Linked DNA regions of Homo sapiens. The protein of the gene in region 2 purifies or fractionates together with the protein of the main gene of each other region. This does not show direct contact. Each region holds a gene or a part of one and is shown on either strand. Other genes may lie near its edges. The genes, in order: GDA and STPG2.

Region 1 (3,818 bases), on a different chromosome or scaffold from region 2:
TGCATGTGTGAGGGTGGGGAATGTATGATTATGATGCACTTTATTTTTCCATTTAAGCTTCTGGAGAATCTTGGAATTTTAAAATTCTTATATCATTATATGTAAGTTTAGAATAACTCACTTTAAATTATAATTACCTTGTGATTGCTTTGGCCTTCAATTTTTTTTTAATTCATGAATCAATGGGCTGTAAATAAACTCATATTGACACAGTTGGGTTTTAAGGTGGGGTTTGCTGAGAAAGGTTTGTTCTATCACTCATTTTTTTTTCTCTTTTTCTTTTTTTGAGACGGAGTCTCACTCTGTCACCCAGGCTGGAGTGCAGTGGCACAATTTCGGCTCACTGCAACCTCCACCTCCTGGTTTCAAGCAGTTCTTCCCCCTCAGCCTCCTGAGTAGCTGGGATTACAGGCACCTGCCATCATGCCTGGCTAATTTTTGTATTTTTAGTAGAGACGGGGTTTCACCATGTTGGCCAGGCTGGTCTTGAACTCCTGAGCTTGTGATCTGCCTGCCTCGTTTTTGTATTACACATCACATTCAACACACTTTACTGACCACCTACTTTGTGCTAAAACAACATGAAATGTTGAAGGGGCCTTAGGACAATAGAGTTTTGGCCCTCTCCATGACAGAAGACAGCAGAGACTCCTGGAGAGCACGGACCTTGGACATCAGACAGGCATGGCTCTGAGTCTTGCCTTTGCCACTTATTTGCTGTGACTGCAGCCAAGTAACTCTCCGAGCCTCCGTTTCCTCATTTGTAAAGTAGAGATGATGATGATGATGATGATGATGATGATGATGGTGTCCTTACCTTGTCTCAAGGTTGTTGATTTGTAAGGGATTTGGCAGACTGTCTGAAATACAGTATGACTTAGTAAGTGTTACCTTTTCTCCAGTTCATCTCTCTTTTTCCAAAAACTTTAAATCATTTCAGTGAGTGAGAACATTCTATAAAGCTAAGTATAATCAAAGGCAAATTGGAATAACTACTTCAGAGAAAGAAAAATAATAACAACACACTATCTCACTTGCCTCACAACTCTATCAAGGTGCTATTAATCCACATTTTTTTTTTTTTTGGAGACGGAGTTTCGCTCTTGTTGCCCAGGCTGGAGTGCAGTGGCATGATCTCAGCTCACTGCAAGCTCTGCCTCCCGGGTTCAAGGGATTCTCCTGCCTCAGCCTCCCGAGTAGCTGGGACTATAGGCGCCTGCCACCACACCCAGCTAATTTTTTGTATTTTTAGTAGAGATGGAGTTTCACCATGTTAGCCAGGATGGTCTCGATCTCCTGACCTCGTGATGAGCCCACCTCGGCCTCCCAAAGTGCTAGGATTACAGGTGCGGGCCACTGTACCCAGCCTTAATCCACATTTTTAAATGAGGATGCTGAGGTTCAGCTATGTCAGAAAATTTGTCCTAGTAAGTAGCAGAGTTTTGATTTGAATTCACATAATCTGACTCTAGAAACCATGTTCTTAACTACCTGTAAAATACTGATTTGAAATATATGAAAAATTTTATGGAAGAACAGAGGAAGGGGCAATTTATTTCAACTTGGGAATAAAGCCTTTGTGAAAGCCTTTGTGAAAAAGAGAAGATCAGAGCTGGGCCTTAAAGGAAGAGCAAGATTTCATTTTGATAGAAGTAAAATGGAAATGGGGATATAAAAAGGAGGACTATTCCAGGCAAAGAAATTGGTGCCAACAATGTGGAGGCATAAAAGGACATGATGTGCTGGAAAACAGGGAGAAATTTGCATGGATAGACATCCCTTGGCTCATGGATACAATATGGTGTAAATCAGTCATGGTAATCCTATTCCCACTTGCCAGACAGATAAATGAAGCAACAGAAAGAATTAGAGAACAGGTTGGGGCCAAATAATGTCATGCCTAGAACATCTTCCAGGACATTTGAAACTTAGAGGCAATAGTGAGCCATAGATGGTTATAGAAGAGTAGATACATGATACTACCCATGGTCCAAGAAAAGAGTTTTCAGTAATGTGGGGGAAATACTAGAATGAGAGAAAACAGTTAAGGGTCTCCTGTTATATTTTAGCTCAGAGACACTAAAGGGTAGATGGGGGCAATGGAAGTGAATATGCACACAGAAATCCCAGAGGAAAATTGGCTGGGCTTGACTATTGATATGGGTGCCTGGAAAGGCCAGTAAGGAGAAGAAGGAGAAGGTAGTTATTCTTGTAAAGTGTAAAATATTGTTCATTGAAAAGCAGTGTAGTAATGAGGGTGCATTGGGCTGCAATGAACAGTACCCAACTAACAGAGATTTAGACAATAAAGACATTTCATATCTCACAAAAGAAGTCTGGGCTGGCTACCGTGGCTCACGCCTGTAATCCCAACACTTTGGGAGGCCAAGGTGGGTGGATCACCTGAGGTCAGGAGTTCAAGACCAGCCTGCCCAACATGGCGAAACCCCATCTCTACTAAAAATACAAAAAATTAGCTGGCCATGGTGGTGAGTGCCCGTAATCCCACCTCCTCGGGAGGCTGAGGCAGGAGAATCGCTTGAACCCAGGAGGCGGATGTTGCAGTGAGCTAAGATCGCGCCACTGCACCCCAGCCTAGGCAACAAGAGTGAAACTCCATCTCAAAAAAAAAAAAAAAAAAAAAAAAAAGGAAGTCTAGAAGTCTGATAGTAGACAGTTCCAGGTAGGGGTAGTTCAACTGCTCAGTGATGTTAGAAAATGGGATGGTGTCTCTGAAATCCCCTTAACCTTTTCCTCACAGTCTCACATGGTGGCAGCAGCAGTTCCAAGTATCTTTTCTTCATATGAGAGTATCCAAAAAAGGCAGGGCTTCTCTTCCCACATCCTAGAAGCTTCTGAGCAAACTTCCTGTATGTCAGAATATTATCACTAGTCACCCTCAGCTACCAGGAAGCTGGAAGAATAAGTATCTGATAAATGGAGATAGGATTACCATGACTGGCTTACACCATGATGTATCCACAGGCTGAGTCTACCATGGACTGATCAAATTCAGGTGTTAATAAGGAAAAAGAGGTCATGACTGCTGAGTGGGTAACCAACAGTGTTTGCCATGAGCATTCTGAACAAGCAATCAGCCTTCTAGAAAATGGGAATTTGCAAGATGATCTTGTAATAATTGGGAGTGAAAGCATCTTTCTGATGAAAGCCAAGCTCCTATTCAGCAGCCTCAGAAGGAAGGGATTAGCCCAGTTTCCTTTCTCAGGACCAACAGCATATTTTGAGTTGCTGAGCTTGGCAGGAAGTGGAGGAAAGGATGATACACAATCACTAGGATTTGTGATTTAGACTGAGAGAACTTCTGGTAAAGTAGCCTCAGGTGAGAAAGAACTCTTCCTCCTCCCAGCAGTCTTCAGAACTGAAGAACATTGGGTCACTCTTTTCACCAGGGCTATATAATCCTCTTTTGCATGTTCCAGTCCTAAAAGGTCCAATTCAGCTACTACTTCCTTCAAGAAGCTTTTCCTATCACTGGTCAACTTGTGCCCCACTGTACTATTTACACACATTTACATACATTTTGCGATCACTCTTGATGCACTTACCTTCCAACCTTACATATGTAAGCTATCATCAAATCCAGTCAACTTGATCTAAATAGCTACTGATTCTATCCACCTCTCCATCTGCATTACTGACAATAACCGCTGAAGTCTAATGGACATGTACTACATGCCAGGCATTATTCTATATATTTTACACTTACTAATCCATTTTATCCTTTCAACAACCCTATTAGGTAGACCATAGTAATTATTTTATGCATAAAGAAATTTGGAGATACAAATGGTAAGGAA
Region 2 (4,255 bases):
GAGTCTAGAATAATTCCAAAACTTAAAGTTTATTATAGACTAATAGGGAATTTTTAAAAAGGGACCAGTATTGCTGGAAAAAAATTTTAAAAGGGACCAGTATTGCTGGAAAAAATTATGAGCTCAGACACTTAAAACTTCAGATACCGGAGACCATCTAGGTAGAGATGTTCAAAAAAGTAACTGGTTATGACTCAAGGACATCAACAGCAACAAAAAAAGAATTAAAAAGAAGAGAAAAACAAACAAAAGTGATTGGCAGTGTTGAAAGCCGAAAGATTAGGAGAAAGCTCACCTTAGAGACATAAATCACCTGTATCTCTTAAGATTTCCTTCTGGGAGTCATCAGAATCAGAATATGGATAGCAAATGAGAAAGTACACACGAGAAAAGTAACAAGCAAAGGATTGGAAGTACAGTACATAAACATTTAAAGATGTGTCAAATGAGGACTAAGCTCTGATTTTTTTTATTTTGCCCAAATTCCTATCTAAGGGGTCTAGGGAGTCACGCCCTACAAACTATACATTCTTATCAGATGGATTTTATTTAATCCTATATATAGTGGCTTACTTTCCAATCTGACTCTGGCATAACATTATGAGACAAGGAAAAAAAATCAAAATGTTTTACCTAAAAATATATTTCCTTGCCATACCTTGAAATTGCCCTGCAAAGTCTCTTGTGGGAAAAATCAACACTCTATAGAGAATACCCTTTCCCCTTCGTTTTCCTTCCTTTCCAGATGCAGGAGATAATCAACTAAGAGCCAGGCACTCTTTTAGGTCTGATAAGAAGCATTTTACAACCTGCTCCCTCTCTCTGAAGTCTGCTATCTGAGAGTTTCCTCTGCACAACAAAACTTGGTCTCCACAATCCTGTATCTTAACCTGAACATTTCTTTTGATGCCAGTCTTCAGATAGACTCAACCAATTGTCAACCAGAAAATGTTTAAATTTACCTATAGCCTGGAAGCCCCCACTTTGAGTTGTCCCGCCTTTCTGAACAAAGCCAATGTATTTATTAAGTGTACTTGATTAATAACTCATGCCTCCCTGAAATACATAAAGCCAAGCTGTACCCCAACCACCTTGGGCACATGTTCTCAGGACCTCCTGAGGGCTGTGTCACAGGCCATGGTCACTCATATTTGGCTCGGAATAAATCTCTTAAAATATTTTACAGAGTTTGACTCTTTTCATCAACAAGAAACATAAAAACATTTAAAGAAGGCCATGAAGGACTGCTTGGAGAGGGGGAGAAGATGATGCCCTGATTCGGCATTTAACAAATGTTTATTAGGTCCCAATCATGTTCCCAGACACTCTTCCAAGACAGTAGTTGGGAAAAAAAAAAAAAAAAAAAACAGGAGGAAATGATGTTACATTTTGGAAAGAAGTGTTTCCAAGAATAAAGTGGTCAGTTATGTCAAAATTAAGGATTGCAAAGTGTCACAGGGGGTCATTGTTAGCCATTGTTAGGGGAATTAATGCTTATAATGCCCAACTCCATTAAAATAAAGATAGAATAAGCTGCAAGAATAGTGATACCAGATACTGTGAAGCAGTACAATTCAACATGTGAAACACTGACAGAAGTCAAATTTGTACTCCACCCCAAGAAACCTAAACCTTCCCTTATCTGATCAGTTATGTAACAGAATAATGGATCCTGGCATTTGCTTGAAAATACATAGTGTAGGTATGGGGAAAATGTAGGTTAAGAAAAACTATCATTTGGACGGTATTAAGCTCCAGAAAATCACCAGAATAGAAAAAGTAGAAAGCAAAATTGATGTATTTATTTTTGACTAAGTCACTAACTGCAAACAAACGAGGAGAGCAAATATTATTTAAATTATCCATCCCCACTCCACTGGTCAAAAATATAATTTTTCTTTACAGAATGTGGAGAAAAGGGGCTCCCCTGAAGTGTGTTAAAAGAGATGAGGACGGTCAGAAAAATCTGTCTGAAAAAAAAACGGAACTATCTTTAAATAATACTGCAAAATAGAAATATAAGCTACATCTTAATAAATAAATGTCTCTGGTTAATGGGAGGAAAGATGTGAGGCAGGCAGGATTACAAAGCAACGAGACAGCGGGAGGTAAGGGCACAGGATTTGGAGACTCATATATTATGTCAACACAGCCAGGAAATCAAAATCCTAGACCTAAACTGCACAATCAAAAGTAGGATGTAGACAACTATTGCGGAATCAAAAGTCCTAGCCATATGCTCACCAGCCTTTTGAAATGGGACAAGTGATACTATCAGTCTCATCTGTAAAATAAAAGTATAGTGTTTTCCCTGCCTACTTCATGTTTTGTTATGTTTACAAAATGGTACTATTCCGCTCTATGTTTAACTCACAAGCACGCAGAAGCGGAGCAGGCTGAAGATAGGATGCCTGTCACAGGAGCTCTGCCTCTTCCTACATCTTACCTGTCGCCTGCTGCTTCAGGAAAGGTACCTGGTAGGATCCAGGACCCACATGGGCCTCAGTGCTGCCACCTTCAGCCAATTTGAGCAGGCGGGGAGCCCGATCATACATAGTGCTCGGGGTGGTGGGGGCGCTGGGGAAGGGCAGGTGCCGAAAACGATAAAAACAAGGTAGCTAGAAGTGTGGAGAAAAAGGAAGCCGACACCAGTCTGAGGAGGCCGGGAAAGAACTTCCGTAAACAGGGAAATTAGGGGTGGGGTTGTCTCCCCGCCCGCTCATTGATACCAGATTTCCTCAAATCGATTTCTAGCTCTGTGGTAAAGTAGAGGGGTGAGCGACTAGAGATTAGACGTCCCACACAATCATCAGTTTGCCAGGTGCACGCCACCAAAATTGGGTATTAGGGATTAGACGCTCGCCCCGGTGCTTCCGGCCCTGACTCCGCCCACTTCTCTCCGCCCGGAAGCCTGGGGAGGAGGCGGGCCCAGTCTCTGGGGAGGAGGCGGGCCCAGTCTCTAGGGAGCGAAGTGGAGGTGCCTTCCTGGGCCGAGCCCTCGGAGCATGCGCACCGAGCAGCCACCCTTTCCCGGCTCTTTTTACCCGGAACCCGGCGCGCCTTGAAGAAGGCAGGCCTAAACCTCGTAGCTCTTGGGGTCCCGGTAACTACTTAGGTCCCGAACTTTTTTAAGTATGCAGAAGAACCTTAGAAAACGCGTTAGGAAGGGTGAGGACTAACTTGACCTTGATCTGCTTCCCGACTCAACAGAACCTAGTAAAGAAAAATGCAGTAGCATGAAGCAGAGAGCTTGGGGTTCCGCAAGCTCTCCCCCGCTTCTACTGCAGCCCCACTCGTACTCACAGAGAAAAGGCACCTCTGATCTTAACCTGTAGATAGTCCAAACTGCTAAGACAAACCCAGGGCTCAGGGCAGTGACAAGAAATGGAGAACCCAGAAAAAAAAATAACAAATAAGATAAGGGTAAAAAAGAAAAAAAAAAAAAAAGAAATGAGGACACCAGGCAAGGAGGCGAAAAGCTCACCAACTGAAGCCGTGGAAGTGACTGAAAGCTGCCTCTTTTGTCGTATGCCAGGTAACCACAATACTGATTCATCAATATTTAAAAAGCAAAGCGAAGGCACTGAAAAAGCCCAGTCCACCCCACCAAACCAATGATTCTGAACCTTGGGCAAAAGAAACCTTGCTTGTCCTTGGGGCTTAAGGAATCTATGTCAGAATCCACCTCTGCATCTCGCAGGCTGTTTTTTCTAGCAAGAATTCTGTCCAGATTATAAATATCCTCAGAGGCTTAGACAAATCCTACCTTGATCATACCTCACCTCCAAATGGTCTACAGTACGTTAATTTGTTCCTACTACAAGTTTTTATAGTTTTCATACTCTGTAATACACGATTTGCCACTCAATCCTGTGCAACATTTACTGTGGCTTCATTGTGCCATATAGGTCGGAACCCTCTCCTTGCGAGGCTATATGCTTCTCAAGGATGTATCTGTAGTACCTTTTTTTCTGTTCAATAGCTAGCTAAATTATTTATGCACTTAAAAAACACGAATTGGCATATACTGTAGGTTCCATCCCTGCTAAGTTATGAGGATACAAAGGCATAAGAAAGTCCCTGCCCTCAGGTGTTCTCTCTCTAATGGGGAAAGAGACGTATAATCCAAAACGAGAGGTGGCAAAGATTTTTTTTAATGGTAGGAAAATGAATATTGCAATATTTTGGAAACATCTCACCAACTTCGATTCTCCCTGCATTCTGTCAGAAACCCTCATAATTCTCTCAATGTTGT

What was found.
Region 1: the proteins of STPG2 (region 2) and GDA purify together in Homo sapiens (affinity purification with mass spectrometry; one large-scale study listed by BioGRID and IntAct). This does not show direct contact.

The regions. Positions count from the first base shown.
Region 1 is NC_000009.12:72,155,862-72,159,679, reverse strand, and holds part of GDA (guanine deaminase), read right to left. Parts: intron 861-3,818; exon of another isoform or gene 667-860; intron 1-666. UniProt on the Homo sapiens protein: Catalyzes the hydrolytic deamination of guanine, producing xanthine and ammonia.
Region 2 is NC_000004.12:98,140,596-98,144,850, forward strand, and holds the start of STPG2 (sperm-tail PG-rich repeat-containing protein 2), read right to left. Parts: upstream 2,882-4,255; 5' UTR 2,556-2,881; coding exon 2,447-2,555; intron 1-2,446.